2 separate regions of the Homo sapiens genome follow, and region 2 is linked to region 1. The links come from fine-mapping of genetic effects on gene expression. Tissue or cell type: whole blood. Region 1 holds a variant in brackets; the other region holds the start of a gene. All regions are shown on one strand. Distances are between the middles of the regions.

The links. PIP is the estimated chance that this variant, and not a neighbour inherited with it, causes the effect.
Region 2: it holds the start of ARHGAP27, and the variant in region 1 is fine-mapped to the expression of ARHGAP27 in whole blood (TOPMed, PIP above 0.99).

Annotation. Positions count from the first base shown.
Region 1 is chr17:45,391,233-45,399,404 of GRCh38, forward strand. It overlaps ARHGAP27 (Rho GTPase activating protein 27), which reads right to left. Exons shown (of 20, transcript NM_001282290.2): 13 at 6,717-6,815; 14 at 5,684-5,792; 15 at 5,436-5,558; 16 at 5,255-5,353; 17 at 4,975-5,052; 18 at 4,751-4,885; 19 at 4,512-4,617; 20 at 2,676-4,401. The coding sequence ends at 4,224. Among named protein-coding and RNA genes, the nearest start is that of ARHGAP27, 38 kb to the right of the region's middle. RefSeq lists an enhancer at 3,229-3,888 and a silencer at 4,520-4,677. The variant G/C (reference allele first, on the strand shown) is at 4,227.
Region 2 is chr17:45,427,925-45,436,096 of GRCh38, forward strand. It overlaps ARHGAP27 (Rho GTPase activating protein 27), which reads right to left and starts at 4,946. Exons shown (of 20, transcript NM_001282290.2): 1 at 4,828-4,946; 2 at 4,292-4,425; 3 at 3,697-3,828; 4 at 1,699-2,373. The coding sequence starts at 2,355. It overlaps PLEKHM1 (pleckstrin homology and RUN domain containing M1), which reads right to left. Exons shown (of 12, transcript NM_014798.3): 12 at 7,976-8,172. It overlaps LOC124904016 (a long non-coding RNA gene), which reads left to right and starts at 639. Exons shown (of 2, transcript XR_007065825.1): 1 at 639-724; 2 at 1,005-1,425. RefSeq lists enhancers at 1,730-2,230, 2,231-2,731, 7,915-8,172.

The DNA.
Region 1 (8,172 bases):
AAAGGAATGAGGTAATGATGCAGGCTATGACCTGGATAAAACTTGCAAACTTCTGTGAGCCCACAGCCCAGTGGGAAGGCCTGGCCACGGAAGCACAATCATATCCAGTGAGCTAAGTGTGATGAGAGAGACACACGCATGAGATCTGAGGAGGGTGTAGGGGGCAGGTGTGAGCTGAGGCTTGGGGGAGGAGGAGGAGGAACTGGCCAGGGGAAAGGGAAGGAGGCAGGAAGACTGTTGGCCCAAAAGTATCGAGGCAAGAAGCAACCTGGAGTGTCCCGGGGCAGCGTGGGCACAGCTGGTATGCATAGGTGGGAGGGGTGGCTGCTGGGTGGAGGATTAAATGGGGAGGAGAGCACCCATTCAGAGGCTGCTGTGATCACCCAGATGAGGGAGACTGATGGAGGATGGGACATATTTAGGAGTAGAAGATTGGGACTCTGGGGACTGGGGCTGCCATGCTCAGAGACAGGGAGCAGGGGTGGTTTGAGCTTTGTTGCAGATGGGTTGCACTTTGGGTGTCTGGCAGCCATCCACATGGAAGTGTCTCCTGAGCAGGTAGATTTTGCACATGACTCGCGAGAGAGCACTCCAAGCTGGTGCTAGAGATTTGGGTGACACCAGTGCAGGCTTGGTGGCTGAGTCTGCAGGGTGGAATGGATGACGGATGGTGGAAGGGAGAGAGAAGCGGGCCAAGGGCACAATCTGGGAGTGGGGGCATCACCATGTATAGGGCAAGCAGAGCACACAGGGAGCTGAGAAGGGAGGGGTGGAGTGGTAGAGAAGACTCATGTAAGCCAGGCACAGTGACTCATACTGTAATCTCAGTGCCTTGGGAGGCTGAGGCAGGAGGATCACTGGAGGCCAGGAGTTTGAGACCAGCCTGAGTAACACAGTGAGATCCCATCTCTACAAAAAGTCAGGCATGGTGGTGTGTGCCTGTGGTTCCAGCTGCTTGAGAGGCTGAGGCAAGAGGATGGTTTGAGCCTGGGAGGTTGGGGCTGCAGTGAGCTATGATCGCACCACTGCACTCCAGCCTGGGCAACAGAGTGAGACCTTGTCTCAAACAAAAAAAAAAAAAAAAGAAAGAAAAAGAAAAAGGAAACCCCATGTTGCTGCAGGCAAAGGAACAGACAGTCCATGTCTCAAGAAGGACAACAGACAGTCCATGTGTTTACTTGCACAGGATTGGGCACGTCCCCAGACTTAGCAACCAAGTGGGCACCATGGCCTTTCTGAGAGTAGCTTCAGGGGCAGACTATAGGCTGCAGGAGGACTTAAGGGCATCTGCTGAGAGGCAGTGGGCTTGGGGAGAGATCCCCGTGGCAGCCCTTATCAGCTGTGCCACTGTCGCTCCTTTTTATAGCTCTCCCCATCCAGACGGAGCTTCAAGAGGGAAGACACCACTTCTACATTCTTTGTGTTTCAGAACAATCCAATTCATTCCAAACCTATTCGATGCACACCTACAGTGCTCACCATGCATGTGCTCAGGGCTGGGGACGTATGACTGAGCCTCGGACTTCTGGTGAGGGGCACGGTAGGTCCCTAGACTGTGCAAATGAAGCTCTGGGCCAGGTTCTGCCACCAACCTGCCATGTGGCTGCAGGTGATTTATGATGTTCTCTCTAGAGGTTTCCTCATTGGTGGTAGGTGATTTCTGAAGCTCCCCTTCATGACAAAAATGTGATAATTCTAGGACCTCTCTGCCTGCTGCTGTATTATTTGCCCACTGAGGCCTTGGCAGGGTCAGAAGCCTGGGGTGGTGAAGGAGATGGTGAGCGGACACCTTTCCAAGATCTCCCTGCCTTTCAGCTCCTTGTCTTGGGGACCCAATGTCCTTGGCCTTAAGGCCCCACATGCTCTGTCCCTTACAGCTCTCCAGCCTCACCTCATACCCATGCTCCCTGGTTTTCTGGGCTCCAGTTACAATGGTCTTCTCTCAGATTTTGTTCTCCCCACAAGCTTTCCTGCCCCAGAGCCTTTACACATGCCACTCCCACTGACTAGCACCCTTCCCTTAACCCCTCTGCTCGACTCCTCTTCATTCTTTACTGCTTCTCTCAAATGTGGCTTCTGCAGAAGCATCTCAGGTCCCTGGGCAACATTCACACCCCATGACACACCTTCCGAGCACTCTACACTTCTGCTAGCTCTTGTACAAATGTGATAACCAAGTAATTATCTGCTTACTGTCTATCTAGTTTCACCCTTGGACTCAAATGAGAGGGGTCCCTGCCATGGGTCCTCTTGCAGGAGAAGGCTCCTGTGTCTGTGGCTCTCCCCACAGGGTGAGGAATCTGGGGAGCCCTCTTGAAGCCTGGACCTGCCCTTTAGAACATGCTTCTGATACATGGGGCCCCAGCATGCCCCGCCCAAATAGCTCCAAGCCCATTCCCTCAAGGGTGGACTACGTCACCAGTGGGGTAGCCAAGCGGCAGCTGGCTGCAGGGGGTATGGGCAGTTGGCACACATGGACTACGATGTCCACATATGTGCCCGTGAGCCTCTGCTTGGGGGAGGAGGGCTCTGTGGGAGGGAAGATGAGAGGGAAGGCTGAGCCCAGGGCCTGCCCTTCTCCGGCCACCACATTTGGGCATGGAACTTGGAAAAGTCAAAGAAGTTTAAATTAGAACCTGGCCTTCCAGGTCATTATCAAGACACATTTGTCAAAGTAGGAGAATAGAACATATTTTATTTAACAGTTGTTAGCTTGATTGATAACTTTTAAATATTTAGACATATGGTATGAGGCCCCTGTGTGTACTCTTGCCCTGGCCCTGTTGGCAATGGGGTGGGCTTGGGTCAGCCTCACCCATCAGACCACAAGCTCCACCAGGGCAGGCAGCCCATGCAGTGCCCCTGCCCAGAGCACAGCACCTGGCACAGAGGAGCAGACAATAAATACCGGCTGTGAGAAACAAATGGGATAATCCAAGCCGAATGCTTGGCATGGTGCAAATGTCCAATAAATATCAGCTGTCATTGTCTGTTGAATAAATGAACAGGTGGGTTGGTGGGGCTGGGGGCCAAGAGCCACAAGCTGAGGTGGCTTGTGTCTGAGGAGGGAAGGGACCCGCTGTTCCCTGGGGTTCACGCTTCCTTTCTTGAGGTTGTGTCCTCCTTCCCCACACCCTGCAGGCCTGCCCAGCTCTTCGTGGCAAAGCGGGCCCCAGATGGGTGTACTTGTGTGTCAGAGTGCCAAGAGGGGCTGGGAGCTCCTGCTAGGGCTATGTCCCCCTCCCCTAGGACAGAACAGCTGGGACAGTTTCCCTCTTTGCCTTCAGGGGCCTCCCCAGGTCCAGACAGAACACACCCAGCTTAGTTCCTTTCTTTTCACATAGGCCCAAAGGTTGGATGGGTGGTAGCTGAAAGAACTGATTTTCCCCCTACCCAGGCTGTACTCTGGTGTGGGAGGAGCCTTTTCTGGGGAATGAGGTCACTCACTGGACCTTGAGCAAGTCACACTGCTGCTGCAGGCCTCAGCGTCCTTGTCTGTAAAATGGGATGGTGTGTGGAACTGGTGCATGCCGAGCGGCAGATGCAAGGTGTGCACTTGGTGAATGGGAAGAAGCCTTGCACAGAACACCAGTGGGTCAAGGACAGCAGAGGCCCGGGACCCCCAACAGGAAAGCAGATGAAACTGGCCCACAGCCAGCCTGTGAGAGGCTCAGGCAGGAGGTCATCCCTGAGGCCTGAGGAGGATAGCTTCAGCAGCCCACACTGAAGGCTGGGTCAGTCCTGTTTCCACAGTGGGGAAGTGATCAGAGCTGCCTCATGACTGGCACAGTGCCAGCACAGGGCCAGGGCCCACAGGGTCTCTGTGAAGGCCTCCACGAGGTGAGGGCCAGAAGCAGCCAGGAAGCCCTCCATCAAACTCCTCCTCCCAGCACCTACCATTCCAGAAAACAAACTCTCACCCCCACACACGCTATCGCACACGCACAGTAGGCGCGATGCAACAGAGAAAAAACCGAATTAACCCCCAAACAGGACGTGACGGGAAGGGAAGGGGGGATGGGGAGTTGGGAAGAAGGAATCACATTTTGCAAACTGCCCACTAGGGGTCACCGTACCCTCAGAACCGAGGGTGCAGAAGTCACACCGGCCTGCGGCTATGCGCTGGCGGAGGGTCCCAGAGAGAAGAAGGCCCGGCTGCGTGGCCTCCGCCGCCCAGCTTGTGTGGCAGGACCGCGGCCGCCGCCCCAGTCACAGGCCAGCAGTCA[G/C]TGCGGCGGGAAGATGTCCGCGCACTGCTGCAGGATGAGCTCCACCACCTGGTTCTGGAACACCATGGTCATGGGCATGCTGGTCTCTTCCACCTCGGGCCGCAGCAGCGTGGGCCCGAACACAATGGCCACGCTCTGCACCGACATGCGGTTCTGCTCGCCGTGCTCGATCACCCTGTGGCAGGGGTGGGTGGGTTCAGGGCTCCGAACTGCGAACTGCGGGGAGGCGCTGGGGGCTTCAGCCGGGACCTGCCTCCCCCTTCCCGCGCGGGCCGCCCGGCTCACCGGCAGAGGTGCTGGAAGAGCATCCGCAGAGTGTCGTGGTTGGGAGCGGGCAGCGAGCGCACCAAGTCACGCACACAGCGGCTGCGCCGGGCCTGGTCCTGCAACTCTGGGTGAGGGAAGGTTTAGAGGGAGGGAGTCGGAACGGGAGGTAGGGGGTATCGGCTGGGCGAGGGGAGCCTGCTAAAGGGGTGCCCCGCCACGCCCCTACCCCATCCGCCCCACCTGCCCCAGGTGCTCACTGATGGCCGCAATGAACTGGCGGAAGTGCGAGAAGGGGAAGAGGGGCTCGGGCAGCTCCCGAAAGAAGAGCTTCAGGGCTCCGGTGATAACGTGGACGTCCTCCCAGCGCCCGTCATCCAGGTCAAGGCGCTCATCTGTGGCGGAGGAAGGGAGGAGGACGGAAGGGAAATCAGTACCCCTTGCGCCTTCAGGCCCTGGGGCAGGGGTTGGGGACGGGCCTCACCGTGGTCCACCTTATAGCGTAGCTTCTGGATGGTGGCCAGGTTTCCACTGATGCGGTACAGCCCGTCGATGTCCAGCCCTGGGCCAGAGGGAGGCGCTGATCCCGGGTTCAGGGATGGGGATAGGGTGGGGCTACGGGTCCCTGCTATGACTCCCACTCGGGGCCTCCCGTACTTTCCCCCTGGACCCTGCGTCCATCCAGGGGTCTCCAGCCTGCGGTCCTGGCAGGAGGCCTGCGGGCACCCCAATGCCTGCCGCCCTCACCCCCGCAGCGCACGTACCGCGGGCCTCGACGGCGCGGATGCACTGCTGCACGAAGCGTGGCACCCGGCTCCTCTCGCGCTCACACAGCGCGGCCAGCGCGCAGCCGAACACCTGGTCTAGGGCAGAGGCTCATCAGCTCCTGCCCAGCCTGCGCCCCGTCCCGGTCCCGGGTCCCCGCCCCCCGCAGGCCTCGGGTACCTTTGATGTAGCCCTTCTCCCGCAGCGACTGCAGTGTGGGCCGCCTCTGGAGGAACTTGCGGAGCTTGTGCCGGACCTTGCTCAAGTCGCTCTCCAGGCCCACGGGGCCCAGGGCGGGCGCGGCTGCCGCGGGGAAAGGCAGGACTGAGTCAGGAGGCAGCGCCAGGGCAGGCCAGGCAGGCCCCAGCAACCGTCACTCCCCAGGAGAGGCCTCCTGGAGCCCCCACCCCATCCTGCCTTGCGCACACCTGCATTCGGTCGCGCGTCCTCCTCTTTCTCCTGCCAGCTTCCCAAGCGCTCGCTCGACCCGAAGTCCACTCTGCTGCTCTCGCTCTCCTCTGGGGGCAGCTCTGCGGACTGGATTCCCATAGCCTCAGAGAGGCGGGGCCTTGAGCCAGCTGCGGGTCCTTCCAGGATGGGGCAAGGGACCCGAAATGCACTCCCAACAGGCATGGCCTGGAGACCCTCAGCGAAGAGTCCTCTCTTCCCTTAACCAGGTTAACTCTCCTTACCTCCACCAGTGAGCCTGAGAACATTCACCTCCCTTAGCTGCATGGAGCCCTTAAGGTGCAGAGACAGTCATCCTGTTCTCCCACACCCCTTCCTATCCTGGGGACTCCTACCCACCTGGTGCCTTCTTTCTCTATTTTCCTCAGCTCCTCTAACTGGGTCAGCATTCCTCAATACGTGGCTCCCAGTTCTGAGCCTGCACCTCCAGCTGTGGCCGGAGCACTGCCAACAACTGCACCAATATCACCTCTCTGGCTCTGGATTCCTACCTCTATTAATACAGCCAAAAGCTTCACTCAATGTTGGCTCATAGGGAATTAAGGGTCAAAAAGCCCCAGGTCATTTCCAGGTCAGTAGTTGTCAGAGGGCCCCTGTCCTAGCTCTACTTATGCAATTGGTGTTTTCAGCCTTAAAAAAATGGTCGACTATTGAAATCAATCCTTTAAAATTTTATCTGCTAGTTTCAGCCTGCCATTGGTTGGCTTGCAGAGTATTTATTTGGCCTTCTGCCTCCCGTGAAATGGGAACTTCCTTTAGAATGTGCCCTACCCTCACCTGGAGAGTCTTCCTGCAGGGCCAACCCCAGGGCTGGATTCACAGACTTACAGAAGGCAGTTTCTTCAGCCGCCTACCCTGCCATCCTAGCCATTAGTGGGGACTGCATTTGCATTACCCACTGGTACCTTAGAGCTCCCTGAGCCTGAGCAGAGGGCCCCACTCATAATGGCCACCCCCTCCCCACTGCCCCTAGAGGCCCTGGGCTCTGCTTACCAGCTCCTGGATGCCCTGAGCAATGGCCTTATGCCAGGTGCTGATGATGGCCTCCGAGTCGTGCTGGATCAGGTACTCAGAGCCATCTCGGCTCCGTAGCTGGAGGGACACAAGTCAGTGGGTCATCTCTGGTACCCTGGGTCTGCCCTGGGGGTTGGCCCTAGTTGGGGGTAGGTACAGAGATAGAGGTGACCTGTCCCTGCCCCCAGGCACTCAGAGCTTAATGGAGCAAGGGCCTCACCCCAGGCTAAGTCTTGGATCTCTGCCTCACGTAAAGCAGTGGCTGACAGCATCTCTGTGTTACAGATGAGCAAACTGAGGCTCAGCAAGTTTTAGCTGCTTCCTCATGGGCACACAGCTAGTGAGTGATGAGCACAGAGCTGCATGGCTCAATTGTCTGGTACACTTTCCCTCCCCCATCCTGCCTCCCTGCAAGCCACAGAACATGGCAGGCCTCATGCAGAGCACTGGCCTGCAAACTAAGTGAAAGAAACTTCCTATGTGAGGCCAGGCACGATGGCTCATACCTGTAATCCCAGCACTTTGGGAGGCCGAGGCGGGCAGATCATGAGGTCAGGAGTTTGAGACCAGCCTGGCCAACATGGTGAAACCCCGTCTCTACTAAAAATACAAAAATTAGCCAGGCATGGTGGCGGGCTCCTGTAATCCCAGCTACTTGGGAAGCTGAGGCAGAAGAACTGCTTGAACCCGGGAAGCGGAGGTTACCGTGAGCCGAGATCATGCCACTGCACTTCACCCTGGGCGACAGAGCAAGACTCCGTCTCAAAAAAAAAAAAACAAAACAAAACCCAGAAACTTCCTATGTTGAGACCCCTGTCTACTAGAAGCAACAGTGAATATAGGGAGAGAGGATTTGAAAGCTGATCATGGCTGATCCCAGGGAAAGAAAGGTCTCCCCTTGCCCCTCCCCATACACACACTGAGGACTCAGAAACGTTGTCCCACCTTCTGCAGCCAGGAGTCCCCACCACCTCCCACACTCCAGCCTGGGCAACACATCTTCTGTTAGCCCGCTTCATCATGAAGCATAAATTAAACAGAACACCAGAGGGAAACTTGCCACCATAGGACTGACGCTCAAAGCCCTTTCTGAGTTGGATGGCAGCTTAGTTGGATTCCTTATCAGCCTCTGGCTCTGAGGACCCAGTGTTCCAGGTTAATGTGAATGTTTGGCGGCAACAGCTCACACCAACCCTGCCCTTTTGGTTCAGCGAGAGTCAGAGACAACAGAAACTGTCTCAGACCCCAGGACACAACTTCTAGAATTGGATTGGACTATCTTTGCTGTCCTTTTAAACTTATACTTGAAGACTATTTAAACTGCTTTTTAAAATGAAATGAGGCTGGGCGCAGTGGCTCATGCCTGTAATCCCAGCACTTTGGGAGGCTGAGGCGGGTGGATCATGAGGTCAGGAGATGGAGACCATTCTGGCTA
Region 2 (8,172 bases), 37 kb after region 1:
CTCAGGAGATGTCAGGACCTGGGCAGTCTCCTTCCTCTTTGGTCCTGGGGCCTGGGGTGTTGGCCCTTGCAGACCTACAGAGCCCTGGCTCATAGGTAAAGGGCTGCCGCACCTCTGCGCTTCTCAACACACACTCTCTGTGCACTCTGTTTGAGCCAGACCCTGGGCCAGATGCGAGGTTCAAAGAGCAAGGCCATTCCCCCACCTCCAGGGGCTCTGCTCAGATGGGCAGGCACCCTCCCACCGTCACTAGGACAGAGTGGCAGTGCCCAGCCCCGCCCGCCGGGTGCCGTTCCCCACCCTGGCCACAAGGCGGCGGGCTACCGCTGCAGAAGCCTGAGTGAAGGCGGCGGAGACCCAGGGAAGCCAAACCAGGACTACCCAGACAGCCTGGGTGGACCCCCTGCTGCTGTCAAGCGCTTCGAAGCCTTACCTCGTTTAAGGCTCACAACCCTAATCCTTAAGTATTGTGCTTACACCAGAGGACGCTGGGCCTGGGGGAACGTCCTCGCGTGTAAGTTAAGTGGCTGTCAGCAGCTGGCAGGTGACCCAGCAGAATCCAGTTCCCCTTTCCCTAGTCTCAAAACCTGAGCTCTGCATTGTAACGAGTCGGGCGGAGGGAACACCCAGCAGCGGGCCTACGGAGGCGTGTCTCCTTCGTCTGGGCATCCCGGACTCAGTCCTGGCACATAGTGGGCATCAGTGTTCATGGTAATGACATCAGGTACAGCGAAAGAAATCAGAGGCTCCCGAGGATCAGAGGTCATCTGTCCAACCCCTCCCTTTGGGCTAAAGAACAAACCGAGACCCTAAGAGAGGAAAAGAACTGCCCCTAGATCATCACACGGCCGGTGGCAGATGGCAGAACGGTTCTGAGCATCTTTTTTTCCCCTCGGGCTGCCCCTCTCTGAAAAGTTCCTAAAGTTCAAAATGTCAGGGTCGCCTAGAGTGTTCTGAGGATGTAAGACCTGTTTTTAAAACGTGCTCTATTTTCGATTTCCCAGATGAACACAACTGGACTCTGAAGAGGGGGAAAAAAACAACCTCACTTAACCGGACGTCTTTCTGAAACAAACCCATCAAGAGTTCTTTAAAAAAAGGAACTGAAATGCTGGAAGCACCCTCAAAGGGAAGCAGACGCCTGACTTTCACATCCACCCTCTCATCTGACCCCAGACTCCTGGGAGACGGGCAAGTCGGTTGGGCCGGGGCAGGCCCGCAATCCCCCGTTCCGTGCCCAGATGCGCTTCGGAATACAGAACAGCTGGGACTTGGAAAGATAATATGGGGCACACACCTGCAGTAGGTTATATAACCTCCCAGCAGGGCTTGGGGCAGCAGCCGACCATCGAGCTCATTTGCATTTCTGCAGCGAAACATGAATATTCACACAAGTGCGATAAATAAAGACCATCAGCAGCCTCACATCAGTTCAAGCGCAATTTTGCCACCAATTGGATTACGAAAAGCCTCTGGGCTTCCAGGGAGCTTTGGAGCTTGGGAATTGCTGATGAGGGACTGCGGGCGTGCACCCCTCACGTTTCGCGGTTGGGGAGAGGGAGCTCATCCGAAGTCTTCGGACAGAGGTGGGCGTCGTGCCCGACGCTGAGCGGAGCGGGTCTCCTTGCGCCCCGGCTCCGTGCGGGCGCGGTCCCTAGCGCGCCACCCGCCTCCGCGCCCCAGCGCCCGGGGAGGTACCTGCTCTGCGCTCTCCTCCGGCGGCGGGACGTGCAAGTCCTGGATGACCTCGTAGACGTTCTCTGAGTCGCTGCGCGCCAGAGGCCGCGGGCACACCCAGGAGCCCGCCACGCTGCAGGCCTTGAAGCTGCCGCTGCTTCCTAGGAGGCCGGCGGGAGGCGAGACGGCGGCGCAGGCCAGGTCGTTCAGGGACTGCGCGGGCCGCACGGGCGCCGCGGGCCGCAGGTACAGGCAGGCTGGCAGGCCGGGCGCCAGGCTGCTGCGCTGGGTCGCGGCGCCGCGTTGCGCAGGGCCGCACAGGGAGCTGGCTCGGCCTCCGGACTCCTCGGGGGCGCCGTCGGGGCCCGCGGTCGCCGCCGCGCTCACAAACCGGTAGTCGTAGGCGAGCGGCTCAGGGGCCGCGGGGCTCGGGTGGGGACCTGGCGGCGCGGCGGCGGCAGGGTTGCCCAGCGCGGGCAGCTCGCGCACGTACTGCGCAGGCAGGTAGAAGGGGCGGCCGCCGGGCTCACGCCGCACGTGCCACCAGTGCTCGGTGCTGCGCCGCAGCAGCCGGTAGCGCTCATTCGGCCGGATGGCCACGCGGCGCCCGTCCTTGCCGGTGTACTCGAAGGGGTGCTCCACCAGCACGTACACGTCCCCCACCACGTCCGCCGCCATCGCAGCCGCGGCGTTTTCCTGCGGGCAACAAGAAGGAGGGCCGCGGAGGTCAAGACCACCGAGCCTGGAATAGCCCCGCACTCGGGGACAGACTTGGGTTCGAGTCCCGATCCTGCACTCGCCGTTCGCCTTCGGGCCTCAGTTTTCCCATCTCTAAAATGGGAACTTGCATAAAATCACATGTAAGGCTTCCATTCTTACACTCAGTGCTGGAATTAGGACAGCCCTTCGTTCTGTGGGGTTGATTCTAAGATTTGACCCTTGCTTCAGTCCTGCGGTGGGGAGATTGTGGGTAGTCTTGGTCCAAATCGACTGCGAGGGAAGCCTTGGCTTTAAAACGAGGGGTGATTGCCCGCTCTAAGGTCGACACCACGCTTGCTTAATAGTTGACTGCGCCTTAGTTTTCCGTCAGTCAAGTAGGAAGAACACCCCATTTACTGCCGCTCCCCGGCTCTGTCCCGCCTGGAAGCCTCCCGCCCGCAGAGAATCAGCAGAGGGTCTCGTAGCACTGCCTCCCTCCAGCAGCTTGCGCCCCGACCCCCTGGTCAGAGTTGGAATGTGGGCTCTGTAGGGGGCCGAGCGAACAGCTCTACCTGGGGGCTGTCGCTGCCCCCCTTAGTCCGAGGGCCTTGCTGTAGAGGCCTCCGCTGCCAATGCAGGGGAACCGGTTCTCTCGGTTTCTCTTTCCTTCCCCAGCTGCATCACCGCAGACGTGAGCCCGAGCCCGGCCCGCCCAGCCCGGCCCGCACCGCCCCCTGCTCTCCAGCTCTCACGCCGCCCCCCGAGAAAGGCCCTGCCCCTGTGGCCTGTCCACCTGCCCTGTGACCCCTACAGTGTCCCCACGAGTGGCTCCTGGAGAATGCACTCTGAGACAGTGACTATAAGTGCGGAGTCCCAGAGCAGGGCCACCCAAAGCTCTCCGGAGTGGTGGTCATAAGCCCCGCTCCCGCCCGGGCTTCGGGGTGTCAGGGATGGGGGAGAGCCTAACTAAATCTGTCTGCGCCCCTCCACCAAAGCCATGAGTCGGTTTTCTCCGGAAGTGCATGGCCCCTCCAAACTCCCACACTGACCACACCTCTTCCTGCCCCCTAAGGTGGCCCGGACCCGGGGCCAGGAGACCGCCGCTTGCCGAGGCAGAGGAGCAGGTTCCAACGGGGGCCCCAGCAGGGCTCCTCCGCCACTTTGTCAAGCGTTCCTCGACGAGGAAAGGGTGTAAACTGAGTCACTAAGCACGCTGGGCCCCGGAGGCGGGGTCATCGAGCTGCCCGGTGCTGAACCAACAAACCCCAAGCAGGACACTCCCCCGGCGCCCCCTCCCCTTGGACCCCGCAGCGCACTCACGTCGGCTGGGCGGGCCTCAGGGAGCCCATGGGCTGGGTGGGCGGAGCCGGCGGTGGCTGCAGGTTAGGCCCCTACCATCGCCCTGGGCGGGGTTTCCAGGGGCGAGGCCGGAGAGGCTGCGCGGAACAGGAGCTGGCAAGCAGAGCGAAGAGGGACAGGGACGCTCAGGAGTGCTGTCACCGATACCCAAAGCAGCCGTGTCTGGGTGGGGCGAGGAGGAGCCTGAATGCCTCTGCTGGGGACCTTGGGGGGCATTGGGACGAGGCCCAGAGCAGAAGGCCGGCACCTGGAGCCGGGACTGCTGCGTCTGAAGGGGCACTGGCAGGTCGCGAGCGGAGCCCAAGGAGGATGGGACCGCCCCCGCTCCGCCTTCCCCCTCTATTCCCCGCCCCCCCACCCCCCACCCCCCGGGATTTGCTGTCCGGGAGTGCCTGCGTCCCTCCTGTGCGCGGCTCTGGGAATGCCGGGCTGGGGCTGGTTGTCTCGTGCGGGCGTTCCTGTTCCCGGGGAGGTCATTTGCACCCTGAATCACCCACTGCGAGCCCTTCCAACCGGATTGCAAATCCGCCCGCTCCGGGCCCACCTCTTCCCTCACCAGGGCCTTTCCCGGAGCAGCCCGGCCGGGCCTGGAAAAACTCCGAGCGGGATTCCCAGCGCAGGGACGCCCACCGGAGCTCGATGTCTCGGGCTGGATAAGAAGGGGACCGGACCTCGGTTCCTTCCCCGACCCTGGGGAAACGCAGAGAAGGGGAGGGATTGGGGAAGCCGGGAGGATCCCTGGAGCGCGACAGCGCACCAGTCGCCAGGAGGTCCCCTGCGTCCACTGCCCAGGCGACTCAAGCTACAGGGGCGTCAACGCCTGGGTCGGCGCTGGGGGCCTGGGCCTGCTTCCCTCCAGCCCCCAGATGGAGGGCAGCCCTTCGCCTACCTTCTCCTCCCCGTGGGATGCGGCCCGCGCAGCTCCCGCCCCAGCGCGGAGACAAGGGGAGCAGGCGCGCGGAGCTCCCGGGTGCGGACCCGCCACCTGCCGCACCCTTCCCTTCCCAACCCTGCCCTTTCCCCACCCCCACCCCACTTCCCACCCCCAACCCCCGCTCGGCGCCCCACTCCCGACCCTGCCTGCCCGGGCACCTCGGGGCGTCCGCTCGCCGGCTTCGCCTCCACTTGCCCCGGCAGGCGCGCGTGGGCTCGGCGTCCCGCGCTCCCTCCTCGACTGTGCGGCTCCCGCGCTGCCGGGTTTCCTGTTCAACAATATAACCAGGGAGGCACCGGCGGAGAGCGCCGGGCAGAACTTCCTCCCGGACTGGGGCTGGGCTGCGGTTGCGAGAGACAATCCCCGGTGTCCTGGCTTCCTGTCCCCTCTGGGCCGGGCCAGCGCCTGAGGAGCGAAGACGCCACCCCCTCCCCTGCCTTTCCCGGGATCCTGGGCCGCACCTGGCTGTCTCCAGGGAGAAAGAGGCTGCGGGGCTGAGATGGTGGGACTGGGGAGGGCGGGAGCCTCCCCCGCAGGTTCGCCTGGCCAGATTGCCCTCCCACCATCCCCCACCCCCTCTTGATCCTTGTGGGGAAGGAGGGCCACCCTCCAATCCGTCCACAGGGTAAGCTCAGAACAACCTCCAGGAGTCCAGCCCCAGGGCCCTCCGCCTTGGGGGTCTTCTGTTGGAGAATTTTCTGCCTCTCTGGACAAGCAGCCTCGCCCTGATCTGAGCCTGCACTCACTCCAGACATTACAAGCCACAGCCCCAGCACACCCCCTGCCCTCAGGGGCCCCAAGGAACAGTTGTGCCTGTGGACCTGGCTGTGTGTGCCAAGAGCTGGCTGATTCAGGCCAGTGTTCTGGGAGGAAGAAGGGCCCGCATCCCAGGCCATGGCCTCTCTTGACACCACCTCCTGGGGACCCAGGGTTGGGTGGGAAGCTGAATCTGGCCACCCAGATTCAGAGGAACTCCCTTACCTCTATATCTTTGTAAGATATAGTAAGTAAGGAACTCCCTTACCTCTATATCTTTGTAAGATATAGTAAGTAAGGAACTCCCTTACCTCTATATCTTTGCCTCTGCTAGGCATTGCCCACCTGTGAGTCCACACTTCCTCTGAGAATCTGTGTGTCTGAGCCTTGGTGGCACCTTGGGACCCTCCAGGGTGGGCACACAGCAGAACTCAGCACTGGTCTTTGGTGCCCGACATGCTTAGAAAATAGTGGCTGGTGCCGGGCACGGTGGCTCACGCCTATAATCCCAGCACTTTGGGAGGCCGAGGCGGGCGGATCATGAGGTCAGGAGATTGAGAAACCCTGGCTAACACGGTGAAACCCCGGCTAACACGGTGAAACCCCGTCTCTACTAAAAATATAAAACATTAGCCGGGCGTGGTGGCGGGAGCCTGTAGTCCCAGCTACTCCGGAGGCTGAGGCAGGAGAATGGTGTGAACCTGGGAGGCGGAGACTGCCGTGAGCCATGATCGTGCCACTGCACTTCAGCCTGGGCGACAGAGCAAGACTCCGTCTCAAAAAACAACAACCAAAAAAGAAAAAAAGAAAATCGTGGCTGGAGGAATCTTCTCTCCCTCCCTACCTTTTAGGTCCCTCTCCACCTGCAGCACAGCCAGGCAGTGGCTGGCAGTGGTGATGGTCTTTGCGTGGGGTCAGGCAGGTATGATGCCCCACTCTGCTGCTTGGCGGCTGGTAGGCCTTGGGAGTTCTGCCTTATCTCTGCAGCTCAGATTTCTTTCCTGTCAATGGGATAGTAACACCCACTTCACTGGATTATTGGGAAGATTAAATGAGGTCCACTAAGCAGTGCTTACCACATGCCCAGCGCACACAATATATCAGCTATTTTTTTTAAGACAGAGTCTCACTCTGTCTCCCAGGCCGAAGTGCAGCGGCACGATCTTGGCTCACTGCAACCTCCGCCTCCGGGTTCAAGTGGTTCTCCTGCCTCAGCTTCCTGAGTAGCTGGGATTACAGGCACCCGCCATCATGCCCAGTTAATTTTTGTATTTTTGTAGAGACGGGGTTTCACCATGTTGGCCAGGCTGGTCTTGAACTTCTGACCTCAGATGATCCAACCTCCTCGGCCTCCCAAAATGCTGGGATTACAGGTGTGAGCCACCATGCCGGGGTACATCAGCTATTATGACTACTTACATTATATGATAAGCTCTTGGGGGTTGGATTGGAATCTCCAAACCACCTGTCCTCCTTCAGAGAGAAGAGGAAAAGGGGAAGTCTCAGCTACTCAGGAGGCTGAGGCAGGAGAATTGCTTGAACCCGGGAAGTGGAGGTTGCAGTGAGCCAAGATCACGCCACTGCACTCCAGCCTGGGCATTGGAGTGAGACTGTATCCAAAAAAAAAAAAAAAAAAAAGGGAGGGGAGAAGGGGAAACAAGTGGCCTCAGGGGCGCTTTGCTGAGGCTGGAGAGGGCCTGAACCCACCGGCAGGGCAGCACCAGGTCACGTGCTGTGGCCCTCCTCTGGGCCTCCCTCTCCCAGTTTCTCTTCTCTTCTCCGGGCCTACCATCTACTGTCCTGGAGGGAGGTGAAGCCCTTGGGGGAAGCTGGGGCACCTAGATTGGCAGAGGGTGCCACCTTGTAATCTGAAAGGGGCCTTTAAGGACAGGAAATCTCAGACCTGAATGTTGTCTGTTTCCATCCCATTTTACTGCAACCTGATTTCCCTGAGAATTAAGTCTGTTTCCTGCTCCTGTTCTTAAAATGGACAGTGGTGTGGGCCTCCCCTTGGAGGGGTCCCCTGGGCTTCTCCTGGAACTTCTGAGGAAGGTCAGCAGCCAAGTAAAAGTCATTTTGAGCCCTAAAACCATGAGCCCTGAATCGGGGGATCCACTTAAATAACCCTTCTTTCCTGAGCCCCATCTCTCCTTTATTTCTCCTCTGAGAAATGTCCCCTGTATCCTGAGGTTTCACATGATCCAGTGTCAAGGGTCTGTGTTTTGACATTTAAGTCACAGGAAAAGAAGCCACCGGCGTGGGATCAGCTTGAGTTGTTATACAAGTGTGGGTACACCTCCCCAGAGACCCTGAGATCCTACCCCAGGAAGAGCCTGACTGCTGGGCTTGGCAAGGTGGTTTTCTTACTCTCTTCTCCCTGCCCACTCCTGGCATGCAAGCCCTCTGCCTACAAGTGTTTGCCACGGACCTCCCAAGCCTTCCCCCGTGCCAGGGACTAACATGAGGGTAGGGGACCCTGACAGATGGTAACAGATGGCTGGTGGTCTCCCCCCTGGCCGTGGCAGTGTTAGAATTCAGAAGCCAGACCAGTGATGAGAAAGATCAGGTCTTTACTGCAAAATCATTCAAAACTCACACGGCAGCAATTCCTTCAATACATTGCAAAGACTCCTCAGGGCCAGAGCCCTGCTCACTAGGAACAGTGTATTGCATAAAATAACATTTTAAAAATAGTGTGGGCACTACCTTTCTGAGGGAGGGGAGGCGGGAAGAGTCAATGCATCTGA